Linked DNA regions of Homo sapiens. The protein of the gene in region 1 interacts with the protein of each later gene in a pairwise test. Each region holds a gene or a part of one and is shown in the gene's direction. Other genes may lie near its edges. The genes, in order: ATXN10, PPP1R12A, ZKSCAN5 and TLE1.

Region 1 (7,025 bases):
TTCCTTCTAACGTTAAAAGAGATTTGCTGTTTCTTTAGGGGATTTATGGAATGAGGAAGTTGGCTTGCATTTAGGTGCAATGTTGCACAAAAAATTCTTATCTTTAGAGCTCTGGAATGATAGCCAGTGCAGGCAGTACTCCTGGCATGAGAGGCACGCAGAGACTGAGATGCCCAGAGGGTACAACCACAGGTTCATCTTTCTCCCTGGGCATACATTCTTGGTGGAAGAACAGGCACACTTTACATTCTCCCCCTCTCCTTTCTCTCCCATCTATGTAGTTGACTGTAGAAGTTTGGTGTGTGTGTTGTCAGCCTCACTGTGTCTACAGAGTAGATAGTATCCTTGTCCTACAGGAATATTGTTTCTTATAACTGAACTTAGCTACATATTGGGTGACAGAGGACCAGAATATATTCTCTGTCTAGAACATTAAATAAAGATACTCTGTTCTGATTCAGGGTAGATCCATAAGCATGAGCAGTCACTGGAACTGGGATTTGGGTTGTCATGGGTAGTGGAAGTGCTCAGGCCAGAGTGCTTCACTTGGCCTTGTGTCTCTGCCAGTTACTGGCTGAGTGATTTGTGCAAGTTACTTACCATCTCTACTTCACTTACCTTATCTGTAAATGGAGAGGACAGTGTTGGCCTCATAAGGCTGTTGCAGAGACTGAGATAATACATGAGAAGTGACAAGAACAGTGTCTGGTGCATAGTAAGTGCTCAATATGTGTAGATCTTTTATTTGGTGTTGTAAATTAAGGAGCTAAAGCAGATAAACGTAGCGTACCTCCCCACAATAGTAGATAAAAGCAGTTTTCTGAATAGGACATTTGGAAATCATAATCTTTTTTTTCTGATTCGTGATAATTTTATCCTTTTTCAGAGAAACAGCACCCAGGACTATCTTCCAAAGAGTTCTGGATATCCTAAAGAAATCTTCTCATGCTGTTGAGCTTGCCTGCAGAGATCCATCCCAAGTGGAAAACCTGGCTTCCAGTCTGCAGTTAATAACAGAATGCTTCAGGTGTCTTCGCAATGCTTGCATAGAGTGTTCTGTGAACCAGAATTCAATCAGGTAGTTACACACGTACCTTGGATTCTGTTTCTTTGTATATGTGCATGCTGGTTCTGTCATTTGGTTTATCTGTTAGAAGTTGTTTTGGGCTGGGTAAGGTGGCTCATGCCTGTAATCCCAGCATTTTGGGAGGCTGAGGCAGGAGGATTGCTTGAGTCCAGGAGTTCAAGACCGGCCTGGGCAACATGGTGAGACCCTGTCTCTACAAAAAAAATACAAAAAATTAGCTGGACATGGTGGCGCACACCTGTAGTCCCAACTGCTCAGGAGACTGAGGTGGGAGGATTGCTTGGGCCAGGGAGAGGCAGAGGTTGCAGTAATCTGAGATGATGCCATTGCTGCAGGCTGGGCCACATTGTGAGACCCTGTCTCAGGGAAAAAAAAAAAAAAAAAGTTGTTCTGGCATGATAGTATCACCCACTGTTATTGCAGGATTGCCCTTTACATCTGCTGGGAGAGGCCCTCTACAGGCCTTGCCATTGGAGTCTCTCTGACTAGTGTATAAAATAATGGAGTGTGTTTAACATTAGGGGTTAGATTTCTTGTTTGTTTTTATCACATGTTTTGAGGTATTTGGTTCTTCATAGTGTTTTGAAGCTGATTTTGAGTCTTTGTTCCTAGATTTTACCTGCCTAAGTTTATATGCAGTTCTTGACCTCAGGTTGTAAATGTTTTAATTACTTTTAATGTTTTAATTTGTTACTCTTGTGTTTGGACAAGAAGCATATTTTGTAAATTTACAAGATGACCTGTCTTTCCTAAAGATCATGTAAAGTTCCAAGCTCTGCTTCCACCTATTTTATGATGCGCACATTTTTAAAAGTAGTTAAAACATGAGCAGGCGAGCTGTCCAGTGCTCTTCTTTGCTTTTACGTGTTACCGTCTCCTCCCAGAACACAGCATCTTTCTTCTTTGATTTTGTGGAACCTGCTTTTTATTAAAAATTTTTACTTGAAGTCAGAAGCCACAAACAGGATGCTCACTTTCCTTCCTGGACTTGGATGTAGACAGAGCCTCCAGGCTTCCCTGTCACCACTGTGACGGGTAAGCTTGGGCTGGTCCAGAAGCCACTTGAGGGACTCCCTTCGGTTAGACACATATACCCGAGGCTTTGATATGATTAATGAGATTTTTAAGATCAAAGGAGAGAGGGTAAAAAGTGAGTCGTGTAACTTCAATACTAAACCAAACCTGCCATCCATTTGAGGATAAATGGATAGAAACAACAATAATCTTGATAATAATAGTCTACATTCTAAAACATAACTAGTTATATGCTAGAAGCATCTGGCCAGAAGGCTAGTTTCTTTTGTCCTTTTCCAGTCACAAGGTGCTCTAGTGTGATGGGGAAGGAAAGGAGAGCCGTAGAACTAACTTTTGACTGTGGCTGGCAGATACACCTTTGTGCTTGGCTAATCTTGGTGGGGAAGGGAGTGAGCATTCGTTGAGCCTGCCTTCGGCATTGGGCTTTGTCCCAAGGGTTTTGCTTGTAGTATCTTCTTTAATTCTTAGAACAAACTCAAGAAATTTTTTCATTTTTACAAAAGATGAAACTGTAACTTGGAGAGGTTAAATAACTTGTCTGAGAGTCACTTGTTAAGTGAGAGAGGCTGGGAACATTCTCTCCATATCCAGACATCTGACTCTAAAGCTTAAGCTTAACAAGCAGTCTGCCCTTACTGTTCTGAGCTTAAGCTCAAAAGCAGTCTGGGCCAGGCGCGGTGGCTCACGCCTGTAATCCCAACACTTTGGGAGGCCGAGGCGGGTGAATCATGAGGTCAGGAGTTCGAGACCAGCCTGGCCAGCATGGTGAAACCCTGTCTCTACTAAAAATAAAAAATTAGCTGGGTGTGGTGGCACACACCTGTAGTCCCAGCTACTCTGGAGGCTGAGGCAGGAGAATCACTTGAACGGGGAAAGCGGAGGTTGCAGTGAGCCAAGATTGGGCTACTGCACTTCAGCCTGGGCAACAGAGTGAGACTCCGTCTCAAAAAAAAAAATGCAGTCTACCCTTGCTGTCCTGAGCCTTACACACTGGTCTTGTTGTGGATGACTGCTCCATCTTGACCCTGGACAGGTGACTTGGTCTTCCTGAGTATCAGTTTTGTCCTCTGTAAAACTAGGTAAGCAATGTCTTCCAAACAGGCTGGTTATGGGGTGTAAATGAGATTACTTATGTAAATGCCTAATGCACATTGTGTGCTCAGTAAACATTAAATGTTTCTGCCTCTGCCTCAGGAATGAATGTACAACACAAGTTTATGTTAATACTTTCTTTCAAAGCAGTCAATTTTTATTTTCTTTTTTGAGTAATATATGCAAACTATAAAAATTCTAACATTACAAAAATAAATACTATGACAAGTAAGTTATCGGTGGTCTTTTGGTAGGGCCAGCAAAGCAAGGGCTGTGCTGTTTGTGATATCTTTTTATTGCATGCAACTTATGGTTGGGCGGAAATGAAAATGAACATTTAAGGGTGTTAATTTTTCTGCCTCTTCCCTTCTAGGATTGTATTATTATTCACTGTTGATTTTTAAAGGAAAATTTCAACCATTTAGGGCAGCAATTTTCAGAAAAGAATTTTCTAGTTAGAAATACTACAAAGATTCTAGTAAAGACTTTGTGGCCAAGCTTAACTAAGGCCAGTATTTCTGAGCCAGTCAAGATTCAGATTGCAACTAGTACATATTTTTCTGATGTTTTACTTTAAGTCGTTAAAGAGTTCATCAAAAGGTGTGATGCTATTAAAGCCTAGATCTTTTTACATCTTTTGCACTTTGTGTGGACTGGGACTGTTTTTGCCAAGAATGCATGGAATGGGGTAAAATACAATAAAGCAAAGAATCTGAGTCATGGGAAACTTCAGGAAGTACTCAAAGAAAGCTGTTGGAAGCAGTTAGCTCTGCATGTAAATATAACCTCTACTGCTAGGGTTGCTATATTTTTCCTGTAAAGAGCCAGATAATAAATAATTTAGGCTTTGTAATCTCTGTCAGATTTCTCAGCTCTCCCATTGTAGTGCAAAAACAGCCATAGACAATATATGAATGAATGAACATGTCTAATTTTGTCTTTTTTAAAAAACCCAGGAACTTGGATACGATTGGTGTTGCTGTTGATTTGATTCTTCTGTTTCGTGAACTGCGAGTGGAACAGGAATCTCTGTTGACAGGTAGCATGCAATATAATTCATGGATTATTTATATCTTTATAAAGGGTTCAAAACCAGTACTTTGAGTATTAACATCATTCATTGAAACACATGTTCTGTATTTCATGAGATAGGGAAACTTTAATAGTGAATTATTAAAGAATTATAAAGTTGTATCAACTTCCCTTCCTGAATGGCTGAATTTTGTTCCTTTCACATTTGTATGTTGAAGTCTGTCTGTTCCAGTTGCTATAACAAAATGCCTTAGGCTGGGTAGTTTATAAACAACAGAAATGTATTGCTTACAGTTCTGGAGGCTGGAAAGTCCAAGATTAAGGTACCAGCAGATTGGGTGTTTTGCGGGGGCTGCTCTCGTCTTCATAGATGGTGCCTCTTGCTTTGTTCTCCTGTGGTGGAAGGTGGAAGGCAGAAGGCATAAACAAGCTCTCTGGGCCCCTTTTATAAGGGCACTAATCCCATTCACGAGGGCTGCACCATCATGACCTAGTCACTTCCCAAAGGCCCCATCTTATACTAGCAAGTTGGGGATTAGATTTCAGCATAGGAATTTCGGAGGGGCACAGATATTCAGATCATAGCATGGTCCTAACCCCCAATACCCAGAATGTGACTGAATTTGGAGATAGGATCTTTAAAGAGGTAATTAAGGTAAAATGAGGGTATATGACTGGTATCCTTATAGGAAGAGGAAATTAGGACATGGCCATGCTCAGAGTAGAGACCATGTGAAGACACAGGGAGAAGATGACCATCTACAGGCCAAGGAGCGAGACCTCAGAAGAAATCAGCCCTCTCGACACCTTGATCTTGGACCTCCAGCCACCAGAACTGTGTAAAAATAAATGTCTGTTGTTTAAGCCATTCAGTCTGTGGTAAGACTTTTAATATTTATGAATGTGACAGGCCCTGGTCCAGGTTTTGGGTGTGATTCAAACAGTGACCAAAACAGACAAAAAGTGTCTGTCCTTAGAGAACTCACATTCCGTTGAGGGGAACCACATGTTAAGTGTCTAAGTCAAGTATCTAGTGTGATGAAAATGGAACTTAGCTCTGATTGTTAACGGTTGTTGACTTGGGATTAAGAGAAACACCACACTTCTTTAGACTCATTAGTAGAATGGTTTTGGTCTTTGTTCTTCTAGCATCAACATCTTTCCTTTGGACAGTGGTTATTATCTTAACATAATGTTTAAAAAAAAAACGTAGATTTTTAATTTATGATCTCTTTGTGCCAGGAATTGAAATACTTTATGGGTAAACCTAAATTATTTGATAAAAAAATCTTAATGTAGGCTGGGTGCCGTGGCTCATGCCTGTAATTCTAGCACTTGGAGAGGCCAAGGTGGACAGATTGCTTGAGCTCAGGTGTTTGAGACCAGCCTGGGTAACATGGTGAAACCCCGTTTCCAAAAAAATACAAAGGCTGGGTGCAGTGGCTCAAGCCTGTAATCCCAGCACTTTGGGAGGCTGAGGCGGGCGGATCATTTGAGGTCAGGAGTTCAAGACCAGCCTGGCCAACATGGTGAAACCCCCTCTCTACTAAAAATACAAAAATTAGCTGGGTGTGATGGCGCATGCTTGTGATCCCAGCTACTCAGGAGGCTGAGGCAGGAGAGTTGATTGAACCTAGGAGATGGAGGTTGTAGTGAGCCGAGATCGTGCCATTGCACTCCAGCCTGGGTGACAAGAGTGAAATTCTGTCTCGAAAAAAAAAAGAACCGGGCATGGTGGCACACGCCTGTAGTCGCAGCTACTTGGAGGCTGAGGTAGGAAGATTGCTTGAGCCTGGGAGGTGGAAGTTGCAGTGAGCTGAGATCACGCCGCTGCACTCCAGCCTGGGTGACAGAGCAAGACTCTGTCTCAAAAAAAAAAAAAAAAAAAAAAAAAACAAAACCCCAGAAAATTTTAATGTAAATTTCCAGGTGGATAAGTTAGATGTACTAAATTATAGGTTAAATTTTGTTGTTGTTGGCTGGGCGCAGTGGCTCACGCCTGTAATCCCAGCACTTTGGGAGGCTGAAGTGGGCGGATCACGAGGTCAGGAGATCTACCTGGCTAACACGGTGAAACCCCGTCTCTAGTAAAAATACAAAAAATTAGCCGGGCATGGTGGTGGGCACCTGTAGTCCCAGCTACTGGGGAGGCTGAGGCAGGAGAATGGCATGCACCCAGGAGGCAGAGCTTGCAGTGAGCCGAGATTGCCGCCACTGAACTCCAGCCTGGGCGACAGAGCGAGACTCCACCTCAAAAAAAAAAAAAAAAATTGTCATTGTAATAACGTCTTTACCTTATAATTCAATGAATATAACCTTTAAATGAGAAGTCTCCAGTTGCATTTAAAATATTATTTGACTTACAAATTGTTTTATATACAGTTTTAATGCCTGTACTTTGCATATAACATGAGGCATATTTCTTTTTTTTTTTTTGAGATGGAGTCTTACTCTGTCGCCCAGGCTGGAGTGCAGTGGTGCGATATTGGCTCGCTGCAACCACCGCCTTCCCGCCGGGTTCAAGCGATTCTCCTGCCTCAGCCTCCCGAGTAGCTGGGATTACAGGCGCCTGCCGCCGCACTCGGCTGATTTTTTGTATTTTTTTATTAGAGATGGGGTTTCACCTTGGCCAGGCAGGTCTTGAACTCCTGACCTCATAATCTACCCACCTCGGCCTCTCAAAGTGCTGGGATTACAGGCATGAACCACCGCACCTGGCCACGTGAGGCATATTTCTATTGATGTTAATATGTGTGCTTCTCTTGGTAGATAGACAAGA
Region 2 (7,627 bases), on another chromosome or scaffold:
GAATGACTCTTATTTCTGAAATTCCTTCAGCACACAGATATTTTCATACAAATTGGCCTTCCTGCCAATGCCTTGCCTTGACACCTTGAGTTGGGGGTGCCACTAAGGCCTATCCTATAACCTTCACTTAATTAATCGTAATTATTATTACACATACTAATTAAAGTCAGTCAGTTTCCTAAAGTGTAGGACATGTAGACTGGTGGTACATGAGGTAATGTTATAAGGTAGATGTAACATTAAAACAACAGTGAAGCACTTAGCACAATATTCTTTTTTCACTACCTTTTAATCTTTCCGATTATGCTAAACTGAAAAATCTTAGGTTGATGCTCACATGTCCAACCCTTACCAATATCCCTTTTTTAACAAATTGAGAGCACAGCTTGGGCTCAGACCCTTGACAGACAACCTAACTAATGTTTTGTTTTCATTGTATTTGCTTTAACAGTCTTCTTTATGTCAAGTGGAAACGTTTTTCACTTACCAAAGCAACATAATGTTGCTTTAAAATAAATTTGTCTTAAAAAGGTTAAAGAAAACATTAAGCAAATACTAGTATTTGCGGTTCTTGAATTTGGCAATAAAACTGATAAAGTTTGGGAAACATTAATTCATATGAAAGGGGCATGTGATGTTCTGTCACATGATACAGGTTGGGAGTCATGTGCAATGGAGGTGAGTTATCTCTTTAGCAGTATAACTGCACTTTGGATTGTTGCCAGACACTCATCTGAGTCCTAGTTTTGGGGAACAAAAGAAGCTTTATGAGCATATTAGCCAGTACTTGTACTGTGATAGGGTTAGTTTCTTGAAATGGAGTCAGATGTGGCAGAAAATTTACCCTAAAGTAAATTAGAAACTCACCTTGTAATCCAGAGGCAAGGCAAAGATTAGATGCTATGATCTAGAAATCAGGATTGATCTAGCAATGGAGTCTGAAGCAAGTTAGGGTGGTTCCATGTTGGTTCTGGTCAACTCCCTGGGTAGGACTAAATAAATTATGATGTGAATGGATTGTAAACTTTTCTTCAAGTTCTTTTTTTTTTTCTTTTTGAGACAGAGTCTTGCTCTGTCACCCAGGCTGGAATGCAGTGGCACAATCTTGGCTCACTGCAACCTCCGCCTTCTGGTTCAAGTAATTCTCATGTATTCTCGGGTTCAGCCTCCCGAGTAGCTGAGATTACAGGCACGTGCCACCACGCCCAGCTAATTTTTGTATTTTTAGTAGAGACGGGGGTTTTGCCATGTTGGCCAGGCTGGTCTCGAACTACTAACCTCAGGTGATCTGCCCACGTGGGCCTCCCAAAGCCCTGGGATTACAGGCATGAGCCACCGTGCCCAGCCTTTTCTTCAGGTTCTTAAATAAAACATTGGAAAGAAATTATTATGCAATGGAAGAGAGTTTGGCCCAGGTGTAGAATACAGGAGACAGAAACAAGGTCCTTGTTGACTGTTCTATTCTCAAGTGTATAAATGTAAATTAGTATCTCAGGTTTAAATTAGGGATAAAGAGAACATAGATATATCAAAGTATTTATTAATATCTTATGTACATTTTTAACAAAGAGATTATAATAGCAGAAACAAATCTAAGCTGTGCATGTCAGCATTTCAAATATGTTTATAATTTAAATTAAGTTGATCATAATTAGCAAGCAAATTAATGGTAAGGAATGTCAGTAGTGTGATTAAACTTTGAAAAAGATATACACAGATCTCATTCTGACAATCTTGTGCATGTAATAAATAAAACCCCCAGCCAGGTACAGTGGCTCAAGCCTGTAATCCCAACACTTTAAGAAGCCAAGGCAGAGGATCACTTGAGCCCAGGAGTTTGAGACCAGCCTGGACAACATAGGTAGACCCCATCTTTACAAAACTTAAAAAATAAATTAGCTAAGCCTGGTGGTGCACGCGCCTGTAGTCTCAGCTACTTGGGAGGCTGAGATCATGCCTCTGCACTGCAGCCTGAGCGATAGAGTGAGACCCTGTCTCAGAAACAAAAACCTCCAATATGATTGATTTGGTGCAGCCAAAAATATATTTTTATATATACATATATGCAAATTAGTAAGTATAGTTTTATTTGTACTTCTATTTTAAGGCTTAATTTGCTTTAAAGGAGCTAAAATGTATCCTCACATCCCAATCTGTTTAGAAGCCATTAGGAAGTGAAAATATTTGCATTTTTTCCATTTGTTCTGCTTAGACAAATATGTAATAAAAGCATGTGTGTGTGTGTGTGTGTCTTTTTTTTTTTTTTTTGGTAAAGATAGGGTCTAGCTCTGTCGCTCAGGTTGTAGTGCAGAGAGCTCACTGCAGCCTCGAACTCCTGGGCAGAGTTCGCCTCAGCCTCTCAAAGTGATAGGATTACAGGTGTGAGCCACTGTGCTGGGACTGTGTGTGTCAATAAAAAATTTTGCTTGTTCTAGAATTAACCCAAGGTCTTCAGTACCATTAATTCACTAACAACAATTTAAAAAAAATCCTCCCTAAAGACAAAGTAGGTGGCAGTTTCAGAGTACTTTCAATATTAACATAGAGCATCTTGACCCTTAGAGCCACGAAAGAAGAAAAACTAAATTCAGTGAAATTTGCACATGATAGCAGCCCTCCTTGGTTGTTTTTTCCCTGACAGCTTCTGGGAACTGAATGAACTTAATTATGTTTTATTAATAAACTATTATTAATTTTGCATCCTGAAATAAGTGCTTGAATCAGGAATAGCATACTTCCCACTAAATTCCTTTTGCCTGAATGAAATCTTCAGATTCCCATCTATACTGCAAGGGCACTTTAAGAGCTACCACATAGGCCATAACGTTCTTGGAAAACAGGATATGCTGTCAGTTGCCTAGGTAGAGACAGGAGCTGACAAGGCAATCCTCAAGTTCCTTTCTTTTATTCTGAGAGCTGTATTCTGTGGATAGGGATTTTGTATTTTAGTGCTAACAATGTTTTTCAGTACCTAACACCATGAGTATTCAAAGGTCTGATGTTATCTTTAATGTATGTAATGAACATACAATGGTATATCTTATGAATATTACATTCATTTTCTATTCCTACAACGTTTTCAGAGGAAATATTTTTACCCTGACCTGGATTCTATCGCTATCCTAATAACTGTGGTTCAGAAAATTGTCTCACAGGCAGACAGTTTCCTAATCACGTTTTACTCAATTATTTTATTTCTCAATATGATAGGCTGTGAAGTAGTCCACTGGAAAAGGCATCATGCTGAGAGTAAGAAAAGCTTATTTGTTCACTGCTCTATCTCCAGCACCTAGAACAATGCCTGACCCAGAACAGGTGCATAGTATTTGCTGAGTGAATTCTAATCCTACTTCTGGGTAAAATTAAGTAAATTAATTAGTTCTTGAGGGACTCTGTCTAGATGACCCCTAAACTTCCATGGTAAGGTTTTGTGGTTTTTATCTTGGCTTTTCTAAATGCTCTAAAAATAGTAGTGGATGGTAACAATGCAGTGTTCAGTAAAATCAATTGGTGGAGATTGTAGATAGATGGCTCATAAGACATCAGTATTACAAATCCTATGTGTGTGCGCGTGTGGTCATACAAGGCAAAGTTAAAGTCTTTTTTTTATGACGATGATAAATTAGTCTTGTTTGGGCGACTGAACTCAAGAGGTGGTTCAAATAAATGTCATATTTTTCATTGTATCTTCAGTGCCTAGTACAGTTACTGGCTCATAGTAGGTATTCAATAAATAGTGGTTGAATTAATTGCCTTCCTTAACGTTCCGTTTAAATGCTAGACGCAGCTAGGTCTTTACCCCTCCTTAGAAAGAGATGGAGCTGTAACCAGAAATCCCTTAAAAGGTAAGGACCAGTAATCAGGCTGAGCTAAGCTCATGGGTAGTACGAGACAGGCTTAAAGCACTGAAGGAAGAAAGAAGAGAACCCAAGCGTGAGAGAAAGCAAAACAAAACAAGTAAAGAGAGGAAGAAAAACATTTCTAAAGTGGGGGTTGGCAGGAAGCCACAGCAATTACAGCAGGTCAACCCTTGTCAATAGGTGGTCACCTCAAGAACTTACCATTAAAACCCTCGGCCACACAGACCCCACTTTTAAAAGGTTATTAATTCTGACATGCCCAAGTTCATCTGAGTTCCTTAGAAAGATCAACCAGCAGCACCTACTTCACGACCTATCCTCCATTCCATTCAAATAACGCGGCCAATAGGAAAATCCTCCGCCCTGAGCCAACGACTCGGCGTAGCTGAGACAGCACGGGAGGCAGATCTGCCCTGTAGAGCCTTGCGGTTCCACTGCTGGCCTCCGGATTCCCGGGAGCCCCCAGCCCGACAGGACAACCTTCCTTCCCCGCTTCCTCCTTTCCAGGTCTGTCCCAGCCCCCGCTGCCTGGGCCACACCCGCTTCCCTCTGGTGGCCCAGCCACCACCGCCGCAGTTCGCGGGAGCGCTCTTCCTGGGGCGGGCACAGGCCCAGGGCGCATGCGCACTGGTCGAAGGGCGCCTCCCAGTCCGGATCTCGCGAAGTTACGTTAGATTGGCCGCCGGTGACGGGTGGCCGTGCTGGGGGCGGGAGGGCTTCTGTGGTAGGAAGGGAGGTCCGCTCGGCCGGGTGCGCCGCCCCAGTGCTCTGTGGGATACTGGAAGTCTCGAGCGTCGGCTCCGGGTTCCCAGCCCTCCTCTGGCCCGCACTCATAGAAACATTCACACACCCCCTGCCTCCCCTCTCTTCCCTCTCCGCCTCCCCCTTCCCCCCCTCGCGATAAGAAGACCCGGCGGCAGGAGAGGGGATGAAGATGGCGGACGCGAAGCAGAAGCGGAACGAGCAGCTGAAACGCTGGATCGGCTCCGAGACGGACCTCGAGCCTCCGGTGGTGAAGCGCCAGAAGACCAAGGTGAAGTTCGACGATGGCGCCGTCTTCCTGGCTGCTTGCTCCAGCGGCGACACGGACGAGGTCCTCAAGCTGCTGCACCGCGGCGCCGACATCAATTACGCCAATGTGGACGGACTCACTGCCCTGCACCAGGTCTGTGCGCCCCGCCGCCGGCTCTCCTGACCGTGAGGGTTCTCGTCGGCCTCCTGCTCGGGCCTGCCCTCAGTTCTCCACCTCTTGAGGCTGGGGGCGGCGGGAGACTCCCTGCTGCGGGGTGAGGGGGCGGTTTCCCCAGAGGGCGGGAGGGAGAGCTGGTGGAAGGGAGGGCGCTGGGCTTGAGGCCCCCCTTCAGAACAGTTGCTGGTGGAGTTGGGAACCGGGTGATTTCCGGGGCATAGGGGAAAAGGAACTGTGGTCGTTTGGGGCCCCAGGGCCATTCGTGGATAAGTCTGGGATTTGGGGTCGAGACAAGGAGGGGTGTAGTGGGGTTGTGCCTGGGCCCCGGTGTCAGTGGTATATTCGGAGGGGTGGATGCTGAAGGAAGAAAACTAACAAGGGGCATTACGGACGGTTAGGCAGATGAACATCTTTGACTTGTAGGTGGGCATTGGATTTGTTGCACTTTTTAGGACTTGATTACAAATGATGATAATAATAGTAATCTAGAGCCCTAAGCCGAGTGCCCTGAACGAACGATTTCCTGTTTTCTCATTTATTACTCTTGGTCACTGGGGAGGGGAAAACAGGGTGTAATTAGCTGATCTGCACCGGCTGAAAGGAAGGGGATGGAAGTGGGTAGAGTAAGGAAGCCCTCTAAAGGGCTTGCCCACCTCCGGACCGGAACGTGTTGAGTCTGATACTCGAAGTTTGCCGCAGTGTCAGAGATCCTTGAGCCCCAGGTCCTCGGGTGTGCACTGGTGTTAGAAAGAGAAGAATAAATAGGGGACACTCTTTTCAAAGCCGGTTACCAAGCTCTGGTTTTTCTTTTGGGGTTGGGAAAAAAGAAAGCTGGTCACAAACTTTTCTCAAAATGGATGCTTTGTGCATATTAAAGTTTTATAGTAGTCTGATTGGGATCTCTCAATGTTAGCCAAATAAGGAGAAACTATTGGCAATCCAGAGATAATGTTGCCTTGCCTTTAACAGGCCAAAAGCAACACAACCACGTAGAGTTATGCATAAAAAGCAATTTTTAAGTGACGGTAATAGGTGACAAAACATAGGCTTTTTCTATTTTCTTAGCGGGCAACTTGGAATAACTGTAATAGAAAATGACTTTGCAGCGATAGCTTCCCCTTAACAATGAAAAGACTTGTAAGCTATCTCAAAGTTGCCTTGGTTGTGTGTGGAAGATGCATAGCCTTATTTTGAATAATGTTGTAGTAAAAACTTGTTTGGGAGGTTGAAACTCAAGGCTTTATATTTCATGAATATTAACTTGATGCCTTTTAAAAAAAAGGTGTGTAGTGACATTTTTCCTTGTCCTGCTTACTGTTTAAGGGAGTGATGACCATTTTAAATTTTGTGTAATGGAATTCTCTTATCAGACTTGGAGTATAGCCTTTGTTTACAAAGTTGACTGGATATATTGAAATGATTGACACATTGCAGGACAAATATGGAATTAAAAATGTGGCACCCAGTAAAAATATAGCAGGGTGTCTAGCGCTTTCTCAATTTCATTAATTTAGATTCTCTAATGCATAGCAAACTTTTTATTTGGGTGAAGTTTATTTAAGGCATATCATAACTCGTAAAATTTTAAAACCATGGTGTTGAGAATGAAGGAAACTTTTGGCATTAAAAATGATAATGTAATTATATAAGATGAATCTTCAAATTTCTTTCAAGTGTACTTTACACGTTTTAGTGTGAAACAGATTTTGAAAGACGATTATTACTGTAGGAGGTCAGGATAATTGGATAATGGTTCGCATCAATATGTTTTATTCAAATTGTCAAATAGAAATTTAAAGTTACTATTGTTGTGGAGGAACCCAGTTGTATTGGCTTAGAGGAAGACGAAAAGTTTTGATATTTACATTATTGTGATACTGGTTTAGGGAGGAAGAGAAAATACATTTAACTGCCTTCTTAAGATCTTTTTTTCTCCTCTCAATATTCACACGTTACAAGAATTGTCAGACTTACCAATGTCTTCCTGATTAACTGAATTCAGTGGTCAGTTTGGTGTTGTGTAGATATATCTTTATTGGGTATTTTGTTTTAGTTGACAAACAGAAGTTTCTAAATTTACTCCATTTGCGTAATATCTTTCTGTCACTTTTTGTCACTGTGAGTGTGGGTTTGACCCGATAATCTCCAACCGCCTCCCCTTTTCCATAACATTTTTCCATATCTGCAAATGCCTTAAATCGGTGAAGCCAAAGTCTTTAAAATATCAAGCATTAAAAATTTGTGTTATGTTTTCTTCACTCTCATTTCTTATTTATCAACTCTTGTACTTTTTTCCCATTGTTACTATGAAAACAGGGAGTTCACTTTGGGCAAATTTAGGACAACAGTTAGTGAAAGACAATAAATAAAATTAAAAACCACACACACACAAGAAAATTTTAAGCCTTTAAGAAATCTCTTGAACTTAGCTTGTTTTCCATACTTAATTGTAAAAACTAAAATCACTGATTTAATAGTCCTTGAATAGTTCTTTAAAACTTTAACCTCTCAAAAGATCGTAGAATACCTAAAATGTATAACGGGGTTAATTGTTGATTGTTTTTTGAATATTCATTTA
Region 3 (6,564 bases), on another chromosome or scaffold:
CTTAAGCGATCCTCCAGCCTTGGCCTCCACAAGTGCTAGGAGTTACAGGTGTGAGCCACCATGCCCGGTCCTCCCTCATTTTTCTGGATCAAAGGGGGAATACATGTTTTGCACATCCAGCCATATTATTGAGAGTCTGTGTTGCTAGTTGCACAGGATCTGCAGTGACCAGAACAGAGATACAGTCCATGCTCTCATGCAGCCGATGGTCTGGTGGGGGTAGCAGATAGTAAAGGTGATGAGCATTCCCAAAGGAGAAGGATGACATGCCGGGGGAGGAAAACTGAGGCTAGAATGTTGGCTAAGGGTGAAGGGGGCAGGGATTGCTGTATCACCCACCCTCTGACAATGCTTCTTGTTGGCTCATTTTGCCTTATTTCCTGACTCCTAGTCAGATATTCCCTGACTGCATACCCTCTTCATCATCCTTCACTCTCATTCTTCCAGTTTTTGTCAGTTCTCACCACCCAGTTATGTATTTGTTTTTTGTTTTTCTTTTTTGAGATGGAGTCTCACTCTGTCACCCAGGCTGGAGTGCAGTGATGTGATCTCAACTCACTGCAGCTTCTGCCTCCTGGGTTCAGGCGATTCTTCTGCCTCAGCCTCCCGAGTAGCTGGGACTACAGGCACCTACCACGATCCCTTGCTAATTTTTGTATGTTTAGTAGAGATGAGGTTTTACCATGTTGGTCAGGCTGGTCTTGAACTCCTGACCTCAGGTGATCCACCTGCCTCAGCCTCCCAAAGTGCTGGGATTATAGGCACGAGTCACCACACCCAGCCTGCTACATTTTCTTTATCAACTCATTGCTCAACGGGCACTTAGATTGGCTCCATATCTTTGCAGTTGTGAATTGTGCTGCAGAAGACAGGCGCTTACAGTCTTTTTGGTATATTGTCTTTTCCTTTGTGTAGATATACCCAGTTGTGGAATTGCTGGATCAAATGGCAGATCTACTTCTGGTTCTTGAAGAAGTCTCCATACTGTTATCCACAGAAGTTGTATTAATTTATCTCTCACCAGCAATGTATAAGCGTTCCCTTTTCACCACATCCATGCCAACATCTATTGTTTTTTGACTTCTTTGTTTTTTTTGAGATGGAGTCTCGCTGTGTTGCCCAGGCTGGAGTGCAGTGGCGCAATCTTGGCTCACTGCAACCTCTGCCTCTTGGGTTCAAGCAATTCTCTGCCTCAGCCTCTGGAGTAGCTGTGATTACAGGGCACCCACCACCATGCCCAGCTAATTTTTGTATTTTTAGTAGAGATGGGGTTTCACTGTCTTGGTCAGGCTGGTCTTGAATTCCTGACCTCGTGATCCACCCACCTCGGCTTCCCAAAGTTCTGGGATTACAGGCGTGAGCCACCTGCACCCGGCCTTTTTTTTTTTTTTTTTTTGAGATGGAGTCTTGCTGTTGCCCAGGCTGGAGTGCAATGGCGCAGTCTCGGCTCACTGCAACCTCAGCCTCCTGGGTTCAAGCGATTCTCCTGCCTCAGCCTCCTGAGTAGCTGGGATTACAGGCGCCCGCCACCATGCCCAGCTAATTTTTGTATTTTTAGTAGAGATGTGGGTTTCACCATGTTGGCCAGGCTGGTTTCGAACTCCTGACCTCAGGTGATCTGCCCGCCTCGGCCTCCCATAGTGCTGGGATTACAGGTGTGAGCCACCACGCCCGGCCTTTTGACTTCTTAATAATGGCCATTCTTGCAGGAGTAAGGCAGTACCTTATTGTGGCTTTAATTTGCACCTTCCTGATGATTAGTGATGTTCAGCATTTTTTTCATGTTTGTTGGTCATTTGTATATATTATTTTGAGAACTGTCTCCATGTCATTTGCCTACTTTTTGATGGGATTTTTTTTTTCTTGTTGACTTGTTAGAGTTACTTGTAGATTCTGGATATTAGTCCTTTGTCTGATGCATAGTTTGCAAATATTTTCTGCCATCCTGTGGATGAGTCTTGCTCTTTTCGTCAGAAAATTCCAAAAGTTTGTTGTTTACATTCCTGTTGGCATCAAGTACACACACACATCCACCTCTGTTACTCCCGTTACATCATAGTTTCATCTGATGAACATTTTTTATGACAGTTTATTTTTCCTTTATAAAAGAACTGATGGGCCAGGCACGGTGGCTTAAACCTGTAATCCCAGCACTTTGGGAGGCTGAGGCGGGTGGATCACCCAAAGTCAGGAGTTTGAGACCAGCCTGGCCAACATGGCAAAACCCCATCTCTACTAAACATACAAAAATTAGCTGGGTGTGGTCATGCACGCCTGTAGTCTCAGCTACTTGAGAGGCTGAGGCAGGAGAATCACTTGAACCCAGGAGGCAGAGGTTGCAGTGAGCCGAGATCGCATCATTGCACTCTAGCCTGGGCGACAGAGCAAGACCCCATCTCAAAAAAAAAAAAGAACTGATGACATTTTCACTTGCTCTTTATTTTTTTTAGGCAGTGACAAAAGAAGTAAGAACACAAAATTAAGTGTTAAGAAGAAAATTTCAGAATATTCAGAAGCAGACATGGAACTATCTGGAAAAACCCAAAGAAATGTTTCTCAAGTTCAAGATTTTGGAGAAGGCTGTGAGTTTCAAGGCAAGCTGGATAGAAAGCAGGGAATTCCCATGAAAGAGATACTAGGACAACCATCTTCAAAGAGGATGAACTACAGTGAAGTCCCATATGTCCACAAAAAATCCTCCACTGGAGAGAGACCACATAAATGTAACGAGTGTGGGAAAAGCTTCATTCAGAGTGCACATCTTATTCAACATCAAAGAATACACACTGGGGAGAAACCATTCAGGTGTGAGGAATGTGGGAAAAGCTACAACCAACGCGTGCACCTAACTCAGCATCAGCGCGTCCACACAGGTGAGAAGCCCTACACCTGTCCCTTATGTGGGAAAGCCTTCAGAGTGAGGTCCCACCTTGTTCAGCATCAGAGCGTGCACAGTGGGGAGAGACCCTTCAAGTGTAACGAATGTGGGAAAGGCTTTGGGAGGCGTTCCCACCTGGCTGGACATCTTCGACTCCACTCCCGAGAGAAATCCCATCAGTGTCGTGAATGTGGGGAAATCTTTTTTCAGTACGTTAGCCTAATTGAACATCAGGTGCTCCACATGGGTCAGAAAAATGAAAAAAATGGCATCTGTGAGGAAGCATATAGTTGGAACTTGACAGTGATTGAAGACAAGAAGATTGAGTTACAAGAGCAGCCTTATCAGTGTGATATCTGTGGAAAAGCCTTTGGTTATAGCTCAGACCTCATTCAGCATTACAGAACTCATACAGCAGAGAAGCCCTATCAATGTGATATATGTAGAGAAAATGTTGGCCAGTGTTCCCACACCAAACAACATCAAAAAATCTACTCCAGCACAAAATCCCATCAATGTCATGAATGTGGCAGAGGCTTCACTCTGAAGTCACATCTTAATCAACATCAGAGAATCCATACTGGTGAGAAACCTTTTCAATGTAAAGAATGTGGAATGAATTTCAGCTGGAGTTGTAGCCTCTTTAAACACCTGAGAAGCCATGAGAGGACAGATCCCATAAATACCTTAAGTGTAGAGGGGTCTCTGTTGTAGAATAGCTCTTAATTTTAGAGAAACCTTCCTGGAGGGAAACCATACTCCTATAATGAGCAAAGTAACAACTTCAAGCATTTTTCCAGCGTTACCATCAAACTCACAAATAGGTTGAAATCCTTTAGTTATAACTCAGCCTTTAGGAACACCGGAGAACCCACAATAATAGAAATCTTTTCGTGTTCCCCATTGAGAAATGCTTTAGTTAGCATCTTCATGCTTGGAAATCTAGACAAGAAGAGAATCCATGGATGGACATGGTCGAGGAATTCGGAAAGCCTGCAGTTGACATTCAGTCTTCACTTGAAACTCAAAACTGACACTAGGAACAGCTTCATGAGTTCAGTAGAAGTAAGCTTTATTTGTAGCTTCTGCCTTGTTTGACGGCGTATCTATTCAGGGAAGCGCACAGTAAAAGAATTCCTTAGCATGATGTCTGTTTTGGTACCTCAGCAATGAACCTTTTCTAGAAATTATTATTCCAACCACTAGAATACCCTAGTCACTATTCCCACTTTGAGCATTAACCCCTTTGAAAAGAAATGGACTTAAAGTATCTCTGTTTTGGCAAAATTCAGGTTCAGGGGCTGGATGGTATGTGTTTCTGCTGCCTTATTCAATCCACCACTTCTCTGTGAAACACTCTACCTTGTTTTTGGTTTGATTCTACTGATGTCAGGGTTTAGCCGGTAGAAGGAGTAGTTCAGTTTGTCAATTCAGGAGAAACTGTACTGGTCAGTCACATCTTACGGCGAAGGGAGAGGGACCTTAGGGGAGCAGAGAAGACAGGCAAAGTTGTGGACTGTTTGATCTTGTATTACCCACAGGAATGAGGGCAGCTAAACCCATAGAAGGAGTTGGACCAAGGCGAATTACGAGTCCTGGTCCCAGCAGTATGTGTGCTGACTTCTGGGTGCCCCAGAAATAGACCTCTCCTGTAGAGTGGTGATATACAGAATGAGTTTCAGTTTGCATTGCAGCTGGGATTGAAAGTAATCAGTCGTGAGCAGGCAGGCAGGAGGTCCTGTTAGCCCTGCCTTCCAGGAAGGTTGGGGTGGGAGTTTTGAGTGGGAAAGAGGATGACATGTGTGAGAGAGTTCTGAGCCTGTTTGCTAGGGAGAGTGAGTGAGTGCTCTTGGGCACTGCTCAGGCCGTTTCTGCTGACTTGCCTGGCTTACAATAAATGCCCAATAAATATTTGTTGACCATATGTGTTGTACACTGTGGTGCCCTGTCCAGTCCCCTCTACCAAGCTGAGACCCCCATCCCCAGCTGCTCTGAGTTTGGGCTGCAAGTGCTCACAGCTCTTGTTCTCCAGAAACTGGAGAATTGCCCTCAGGAGATGAGAGCCATCTCACCTCACCCAGGAGTCACTTCCTCTCTACACCCCAACACCTGGTTCATTTGATTAAAGCGGAGAAAACTCCAGGGTGCTATGACTGCTCTGGCACCCTTGGATCAGGCCAAGCTAGACTTTTTCTGAGCCTTCATCCGTGCTAAGCTCTCTCCCTTCTCTATCCTGTTTCATTCCCTCCCTCAAAGGCGTTTCCCAAATAAATCACACTGTCAATCACATGGTTCTGAATCCCTGTCTCAGGCTCTGCTTTAGAGAACCTGATCTAAGACATTTGGTGCCACAAGTGGTCATAGGAAGCTGCTGTGAGAGTGGATTGTGGAGTTGGTCACTCGCCAGGAGGGAGTGAAGACCCGCATCACTGTTAATAGTCCTGGCATGTGGTACCTGTCCAGTCACTAAGTCATTCACTTGTGGGGAACTGGGATGAGATACAGGTGGAAAGCGATCTATTGACTTGTAGAGGTTTGGGACAAACAGGAAAATAAAGATTATGGAATTGGGTGGCTCTTGCTGAAAGTCACTGAATCCTTGAAGAGAAGAAAATGACAGGGCAAATAACCACCAATTTAATGCCAAGTGTGTGTCAGAGGACCTTCTTGGTAGCTTTTTAATTTTTTTATAGACAGGGTCTTGCTCTGCTGCCCAGGCTAGAGTGCAGTGGTGCAATCACAGCTCACTGCAGCCTTGACCTCCCGGGCTCAAGTGGTCTAGCCACCTCAGCCTCCTGAATAGCTGGGACTACAGGCACATGCCACCATGAGTGGCTAATTTTTAAAAAACATACTTTAGCTGGGCGCGGTGGCTCATGCCTATAAACCCAGCACTTTGGGAGGCTGAGGCGGGCAGATCACGAGGTCAAGAGATCGAAACCATCCTGGCCAACCAACATGGTGAAACCCGGTCTCTACTTAAAATACAAAAATTAGCTGGGCATAGTGGCGCATGCCTATAGTCCCAGCTACTCCAGAGGCTGAGGCAGGAGAATCGCTTGAACCCGGGAGGCAGAGGTTGCAGTGAGCTGAGATCACGCCACTGCACTCTAGCCCAGTTGACAGAGCGACAGTGTCTAAAAAAAAAAAAAAAAAAAAAAAAAACATTTTTTGGAGAGATGGTATCTCCCTATGCTGCCCAGAGTGGTCTCGAACTCCTGGGCTCAAGTGATCCTCCAGCCTTGGCCTCCCAAATGTTGGGATTACAGGCATGAGCTACTGCACCTGGCCTTGGAGTGATTCTTGAAAGCTTAGAAAAGTCAGTGGCCCACATTAAATGACGTAGAGATGACAAAACCATGGCAGACTTAACAAAGGGATCCAAAGATTCATACATACACAAACTAGGATGGAACTAGAAGATAAGACCAAGCAACCCACCTTCAGTTATGTTCCTTAGGAGGGTCTGGAGAGCATTCTGTTTACCAAGGTTCCAAGGAATGCCCTGGTTGGGGGGCCATCAGCATCACTGAGAAGCTTGGTAGTGGCTATCCTGGTTTGCAGGGGCTGGTTATTATATAACATCACCCCAGACCATTCACATTACAGCCAGAGGTGCAGCAGTGGGCATGTGGCCATGGGGACCATTGTTTGTTTGTTTTTTGTTTTTTGAGACAGGGTCTCGC
Region 4 (7,025 bases), on another chromosome or scaffold:
CTCGGTGGGGGGACCTCTTGCAACTTCTTACATTAAGAAGTTAATGGTTGCTCATGTATGGAGCAATAATGGTCTAACTGACATAAAGTTTTATTTCCTTTAAAAAAAGATATTTCTCTAGACATTTTGAATGCCTAAGTTGGATGTTTGGCTCCCCTTTCCTTCCAGTGCCCTCTAGGCAAAGTTCTTAAGCATGAGGCACAAAGAGGGATATGACTGCGGGGTTTTTTTTTTATGGCATGTTTGCAGGTATGTTTGCCGACACCATATTGCTCATTTATAACATGGTGTTGGTCACCTTGTACAACCCCAACCCGAAGGACTTTCAGCTCTGTCCTTAAATTTAGAGAATGAGTGTGGAAAGGGAAAAGTCTGTCTGTTACAAGCTAAATCACGAAAACTTTTGATTATGCTTGTTGAGGACCCTTCTTCTCCGCGAGCAAGCCCTGCCCACTCGCCCCGGGAAAATGGAATCGACAAAAATCGCCTGCTAAAGAAGGATGCTTCTAGCAGTCCAGCTTCCACGGCCTCCTCGGCAAGTTCCACTTCTTTGAAATCCAAAGAAATGAGCTTGGTAGGTAAAGAAAACTGACACTTGCCTGTTTGGCAGTGTATTTTTCATTGTGGACTGGAGGACTCTGAAGTATTGGAAATGTGGGGGTTTTGCTGCTTGAGGGTTGTATTTTTAAGAGTTTAATAGTGAAACTCATCCTTCTGTTCTTTGTCACCATTCAGGGTTTACTTTTTCCCCTCAGTCATCTCTTTTCGGCCATGATTAGAGGGTGTACACGCATCTGTGTTCATTGCCTTCTTCTTCTTCTTCTTCTTTTTTTTTTTTTTTTTGAGACGGAGTCTCACTCCATCATCCAGGCTAGAGTGCAGTGGTGCAGTCTCAGCTCACTGCAGCCTCTGCCTCCTGGGTTCAAGCGATTCTCCTGCCTCTGCCCCCTGAGTAGCTGGGATTACAGGCGCGCGCGACCATGCCCAGCTAATTTTTTTTTTTTTTTTTTTGTATTTTTAGTAGAGATGGGGTTTTGCCATGTTTGTCAGGCTGGTCTTGAACTCCTGACCTCTTTGATCCACCCGCCTCAGCCTCCCAAAGTGTTGGGATTACAAGCCCAGCCTCATTGCCGTCTTACTTGGGGGATATGTTCTTGCCACACAGCTCTCTGAAACTTCCCAGTTGACAAATGGTTCAAACTTCTGAGATTCTTTTTTTTTTTTTCTGAGACGGAGTCTCACTCTGTTGCCCAGGCTGGAGTGCAGTGGCGTGATCTCGGCACACTGCAACCTCCACCTCCCAGGTTCAAACAATTCTCCTGCCTCAGCCTCCCCAGTAGCTGGGATTACAGGCACTCACCACCACGCCTGGTACCACCATACATTAGAGAGGGTGTACACGCATCCATGTTCATTGCCTTCTTCTTCTTCTTCTTTTTTTTTTTTTTTTTTTTTTTTTTTTTTTTTTTTTTTTGAGATGGAGTCTCACTCTGTCACCCAGGCTGGAGTGCAGTGGTGCAATCTTGGCTTATTACAGGGTTTCATGTTGGCCATGCTGGTCTTGAACTCCTGACCTCAGGCAATCTGCCTGCCTTGGCCTCCCAAAGTGCTGGGATTACAGGTGTGAGCCACCGCACCTGGCCTCAAACTTCCGAGATTCTTAAGTCTTCATTTTCTTAGGCTGGTCATTTACCTGGTAGACTGATCCTTAATATCGGGGCATGTCATAGAGCATGCCCCGATATTATGGAGCTCGTCAGATCAGTGATGCACAAAGGAGGCCCCAGGGGAAGCCAGGAACTGGTGCATCAGAACCCACTCATGTGGTCACTCATTCAATCAAACTTTGTAGACTGCATCATCTTTTAACAATAACATTTCATAACAACCCTTCAGTTAATCCTTACCTGGTCCCGGTAGGCATTATCCCATTTTACCGGTTGGGAGGGATGAATAACTTAACAAGGCTACACAGCCGTGGCTCATGATCCAAGGTCAGAAAGAGCTCTCTTTAGCCCGTGCTCTTTGCCACGCTGTAGTGGTTCTTGGACTGTGTTGTAAAGCACATGAAAGGTTGAAAGGCCAGAGAAGGTGCCCTGTAACCCTGTTACTGTCTGGTCTCCGAAAGGCCCCTTGCTGGTGTTCAGTCTCTGATCTGCACTGGTGGGTCCACTTTGGTTATGTAGGCAAGTGGGCAGTGACTCTTAACTCCAAAGTGTTGTTCTTTTTAGGCATATTGGTAAGGTTAGCCCTGGGGCTTTTGTCTCTGAGATACTGGCCCCACTCTCTCTCACCATTTGTCTCAATCCCAGGGCTACCTAAAAAGGAGACTTGAAAAGGGGTCTTCTGGCCTGGCGCGGTGGCTCAGGCCTGTAATCCCAGCACTTTGGGAGGCCAAGGCGGGTGGATCACGAGGTCAGGAGATCGAGACCATCCTGGCTAACATGGTGAAACCCCGTCTCCACTAAAAATACAAAAAAATTAGCTGGGCATGGTGGCGGGCACCTGTAGTCCCAGCTACTCAGGAGGCAGAGGCAGGAGAATGGCGTGAACCCGGGAGGCGGAGCTTGTAGTAGGCCGAGATTGCGCCACTGCACTCCAGCTTGGGTGACAGAGTGAGACTCCATCTCAAAAAAAAAAAAAAAAAAAGAAAAGAAAAGGGGTCTTCCTTGGACTTGGCGGCCAGGACATGTGTTTCTGAGTGCCTGGGAAATATTCTCTGGGTGGTCATCTTTCTAACTTGGCGTAGACCCAAAGTCCACAAGGCTGATGGAAAATACTTTTAAAATAAAATCTGCGGAGGAAGAAGTGTGATCATGTTCTGTGTCTCTAGCTCGAGTTTTAATTCTGGCAGGAAGAGGAAAGGTCAACATTTCTCGCTCACAAGTTAATGCTGTCAACATTGTGTGGATTTATGAAAATTGGCTGAGGGAGTAGCTAGAAGGTGCCCAGTGTCCCAGCTGCTGTTGTGATAAATTGTGTAATATGGCTTGGATTAAAAATAATACTCATTTAATTTGTTTAATGACACCAGCATGAAAAAGCCAGCACGCCTGTTCTGAAATCCAGCACACCAACGCCTCGGAGCGACATGCCAACGCCGGGCACCAGCGCCACTCCAGGCCTCCGTCCAGGTCTCGGCAAGCCTCCAGCCATAGACCCCCTCGTTAACCAAGCGGGTACAGCATCGCCTCTTGTTGTGCTTTGTTTGGTTTCTCCCATTCCCAGCTTGATTTGTTGTCTGTTAATGTTGTGACGCAATTGCCCTACAAATATGAAATGTACGTAGGGCCACCCTCCTTCCTATCTCTGAAAAAGCCATGATAAGAAACAGATGTTTGTCCTGGGGTTTCAGCAGCTGCACTCTGTTCAGTCTCCAACTGTTTACATTCAGCTTTTCTTTTTTTCTTGAGACGAAGTCTCGCTCTTGTCCCCCCAGGCTGGAATGCAATGGCGTGATCTCAGCTCACTGCAACCTCTGCCTCCTGGGCTTTGAGACGAAAGTCTTGCTCTTGTCCCCCCCAGGCTGGAATGCAATGGCGGGATCTCAGCTCACTGCAACCTCTGCCTCCTGGGTTCAAGCGATTCTCTTGCCTGAGCCTCCTAAAGAGCTGGGATTACAGGCGCCTGCCACCACGCCTGGCTAATTTTTGTATTTTTAGTAGAGACGGGGTTTCACCATGTTGGCCAGGCTGGTCTCAAACTCCTGACCTCAGGTGATCTGCCCATCTCGGCCTCCCAAAGTGCTGGGATTACAGGCGTGAGCTACCTTGCCCAGCCTTCTTTTAGTTTTAAATAATTCAAATCCTAGGGACTTCAGTAAAGTTTCTGATAATTATTTTGAACACAAGCCTCCCCACCTAACTAGCATTGTGCGTCTGACTTTGCTAATACTGGCTGAAACAGCGGTTTGGCTGGCCCAACCGTGCTCCTTGCAGACTATAGTTTGCTGGTTTTCTGCTAGGGGAGGCTTCAGGAATCAGTGGTCTCTCCTGCAGTAGAAATTAGGAGGGTTTCTCTGCGACTCCAGCCCTTAAAAAACTCATAATTTGCAACCTGATATTCCCCAGTGGGAAAGGAAAAAAGCAACAACCTGGGCCCAAAGGAAAATAGGCAACAGAATATTCCTCCTAAACCCGTGCTTTGGTTTACGTAAATCCAGGATTGGATTTTCATTTGGAATTGGTACCAGGGAATGGAAAGTTCGGACTGAAAGAGAAATCTTGGATTTTATCGAGAAAATCTTCTTTTGAGATTAAGTCAGGTAAACACTTGGTGCCTGTGCCTTGGTTTGCCCTCTGTAAATTGGGTAGGGAATACTCTTAATTCCCCTGGCTTCCTGGTGCTGCCATTTACACAAATGAGAAAATGTGTGGGTTGTGCTTCCCCTGGAGTCTTTTCTTTCCTGGAGATGCATTCGCTCTGGGGAAGGAGGGATCCAGTGTATAAATTGGAGGTGATTTTCCCCCTCCCCTAGAAGCCTTACCTCTTTCTCTCTCCCCATGAGTGACACTAACAAATGATGAGGCCAGACTTGCTGGTCAGGTTTGATGGAGTGGGTCAGTTGAATGATGTGCGGCTTGTGTTTCCTTTCAGCAGCTGGCTTGAGGACACCCCTGGCAGTGCCCGGCCCATATCCTGCTCCTTTTGGGATGGTCCCCCACGCTGGCATGAACGGCGAGCTGACCAGCCCAGGCGCTGCCTACGCCAGTTTACACAACATGTCGCCCCAGATGAGCGCCGCAGCCGCCGCGGCCGCCGTGGTGGCCTACGGGCGCTCCCCCATGGTAGGCCGCTGTCGGGTGGGCTGTGGTTGGGGTAGGAACGCTGCATGCTCCATTGAGCGCTGTCAGGTTTGGGGCCAGGCCTCTCTGCGCTGCGTGGGCAGGAGCAGCCAGCCCCACACACCTCGGAGACAAAGACGCCCAGTCTCCCAGCCACACACTCACCTTCCTCTTGTCAGCTTTCATCAGCATGCTGCTTCATTAAGTGAGGGCCAAACGTTTTTTGTTTTAGTGTTTTTGTGGATGAAAAAGGCAGTGTTTAGAAGCTCCTTCAGTGGTTCAGGGGACATCTGGTTTTCTCCCACCAAAGTCGATTTTTTTTATTTGAAGGCGATGAAATGATTCGAGTGGTTCACAGAAGCCTTTTCATTCATTTTCTTGAACTTTTTTTTTCTCATTAAACCTTAGGAAAAAATGTCTGAGAAGCCATCGCTTTCTCTTTCTATGCCTATGTTACACTTTAAACCCAATAGCATGACTTATATATAAGCAGTGGTCTCTGTAAACAGGTAGAATTCTGGACAGACTGAACCACGGGGGCAGGCTGTCTCTCGTCTGTTTGCCCTGCCTCTTGCCACTGTGCAAATGATCTAATTTTTGAACAAGAAGAAACAAAACTGCATTTGAAGGGTAGAATTGGCTCTGTGATCGTTGATTGCATTAAGGGTATAAAGTCCCACCGTCATTTCTCTTGGCTGTTTGAAAAATGTCCTCTACCTTTCTCTCTTGTCCCCTCTTCACATAGCATTACCTCCACTAGTTTGCGGTGACATTAAGATTCATTTGTTTTTCCTGATATTGCACTTGTAGGAGAGGCTGTGCAGTGGCGGGCAAAGTGTTGAAAGTAAGGTGGTCAGCTGAGAGACTACATGCTGTCCTTAACGCTGCACAAAGTAGGGAATCCATGTATGAATCCTTAAGCATTAAATTAGACCCATGTATGCAACTGGGGATGATTTTGTCCCTTGAGGACATTTGATAATATCTGGAGACACTTTTGATTATCATAACTGGGGGTGGGAGGGGGGGCAGGTATGGATTCCTCTTGGCACATAAACAGTAGGGGCCAGGAATGATATTCAGCATCCTGCAACGCCCAGGACGGCCCCTAACAAAGAAAAGAACTGTTTGGCCCCAAATGTCAATAGTGCTGAGGTTGAGAAATCCTAATACAACATACTGCTCTGTGAACTTGCTTGCAAGTCTAAGGGAAGTATTTACCATGGGGAAGTGGTTCTCAGTGCACAAATAGATCACATCTCCTCTCTACCTCCCAAAAAGGAAGTGGGTCTTGTGGCGTTCAGGGGTGCTTATATTACCTCTTGCATAGTAATTAAAAAGAAAAACACTAGGCCATGTTACTGTTCCCATTTATGTTGCTTTGGGGATCTGTGAGTTTCTAATGAACAGTATTGATGTTCACAAAGTGCCTGCTGCAATAAACTGAGTCTGCAATGCCTTATTTTTGTTTCCAGGTGGGGTTTGATCCTCCCCCTCACATGAGAGTACCTACCATTCCTCCAAACCTGGCAGGAATCCCTGGGGGGAAACCGTAAGTACCTCAAAGACCTTGGTTTTGTTTTAAAGGTGGTTACTCAGTCATTGGTATTAGCAGACTAGAATTCCAAAGGGAGTACAGGCTTGGGCGTTTCCAAGGAGATTTCTGGTGTCTTTTCCTGAGGAGTGTTAACACTTTCTATAAATAGGCAGCTTGTAGGTGTCATGCCTCTGTCTTCTCCCTGGGGGTGATCTCCTTAGTTATTTCTGGAGAGAAACTGTTGGAGATGAGGACGAGGTGGGAGGAAAGAGCTGGAGGTGGCTGGCCCTCTTCGCCTGACCCCTCAGAAAGCTGCTCTGCTCTGCTCTGCCATTTGGCTAGAGGGCAGCTGCTGGAGATTCCCAACAGTGCTGTGCTGTGGGCAGTCAGCTGTCACGAACTCTTGCAGGCTTAGACACTTTTTTGAAATGTGTCATCTCTTTACTCAGCTCTGTGCCACCTTTTTCTTATTTTGGTGGAAACAAGAGTTATTTGAAGGGTAGGTTGTGTTGGATGCCAGCACCCCAGGTTTACCCCCAAGTAAAGTTTTGATGAGTGCTCCAAGAGATCTAGAATTATAAAAAGCAAAGTGGCTTCGTGGGGAAGCAGGAAAAGTTAATGTTCATTTTGTGTCCAGTGCACAAAAGAATTGGAATTTAAAAAAACTCAATTGGCTATTCTTCCTGGGTCACTTTAAAAATTGC

The links.
Region 2: the proteins of ATXN10 (region 1) and PPP1R12A interact in binary tests that used the Homo sapiens proteins (3 or more experiments, as listed by UniProt).
Region 3: the proteins of ATXN10 (region 1) and ZKSCAN5 interact in binary tests that used the Homo sapiens proteins (3 or more experiments, as listed by UniProt).
Region 4: the proteins of ATXN10 (region 1) and TLE1 interact in binary tests that used the Homo sapiens proteins (3 or more experiments, as listed by UniProt).

Annotation. Positions count from the first base shown.
Region 1 is NC_000022.11:45,688,826-45,695,850, forward strand, and holds part of ATXN10 (ataxin-10), read left to right. Parts: intron 1-886; coding exon 887-1,078; intron 1,079-4,170; coding exon 4,171-4,253; intron 4,254-7,025. UniProt on the Homo sapiens protein: May play a role in the regulation of cytokinesis. May play a role in signaling by stimulating protein glycosylation. Induces neuritogenesis by activating the Ras-MAP kinase pathway and is necessary for the survival of cerebellar neurons.
Region 2 is NC_000012.12:79,932,093-79,939,719, reverse strand, and holds the start of PPP1R12A (protein phosphatase 1 regulatory subunit 12A), read left to right. Parts: upstream 1-4,622; 5' UTR 4,623-4,788; coding exon 4,789-5,025; intron 5,026-7,627. UniProt on the Homo sapiens protein: Key regulator of protein phosphatase 1C (PPP1C). Mediates binding to myosin. As part of the PPP1C complex, involved in dephosphorylation of PLK1. Capable of inhibiting HIF1AN-dependent suppression of HIF1A activity.
Region 3 is NC_000007.14:99,528,658-99,535,221, forward strand, and holds the end of ZKSCAN5 (zinc finger protein with KRAB and SCAN domains 5), read left to right. Parts: intron 1-2,450; coding exon 2,451-3,592; 3' UTR 3,593-6,043; downstream 6,044-6,564. UniProt on the Homo sapiens protein: May be involved in transcriptional regulation.
Region 4 is NC_000009.12:81,609,531-81,616,555, reverse strand, and holds part of TLE1 (transducin-like enhancer protein 1), read left to right. Parts: intron 1-421; coding exon 422-574; intron 575-3,034; coding exon 3,035-3,179; intron 3,180-4,162; coding exon of another isoform or gene 4,163-4,264; intron 4,265-4,596; coding exon 4,597-4,787; intron 4,788-6,259; coding exon 6,260-6,336; intron 6,337-7,025. UniProt on the Homo sapiens protein: Transcriptional corepressor that binds to a number of transcription factors. Inhibits NF-kappa-B-regulated gene expression. Inhibits the transcriptional activation mediated by FOXA2, and by CTNNB1 and TCF family members in Wnt signaling.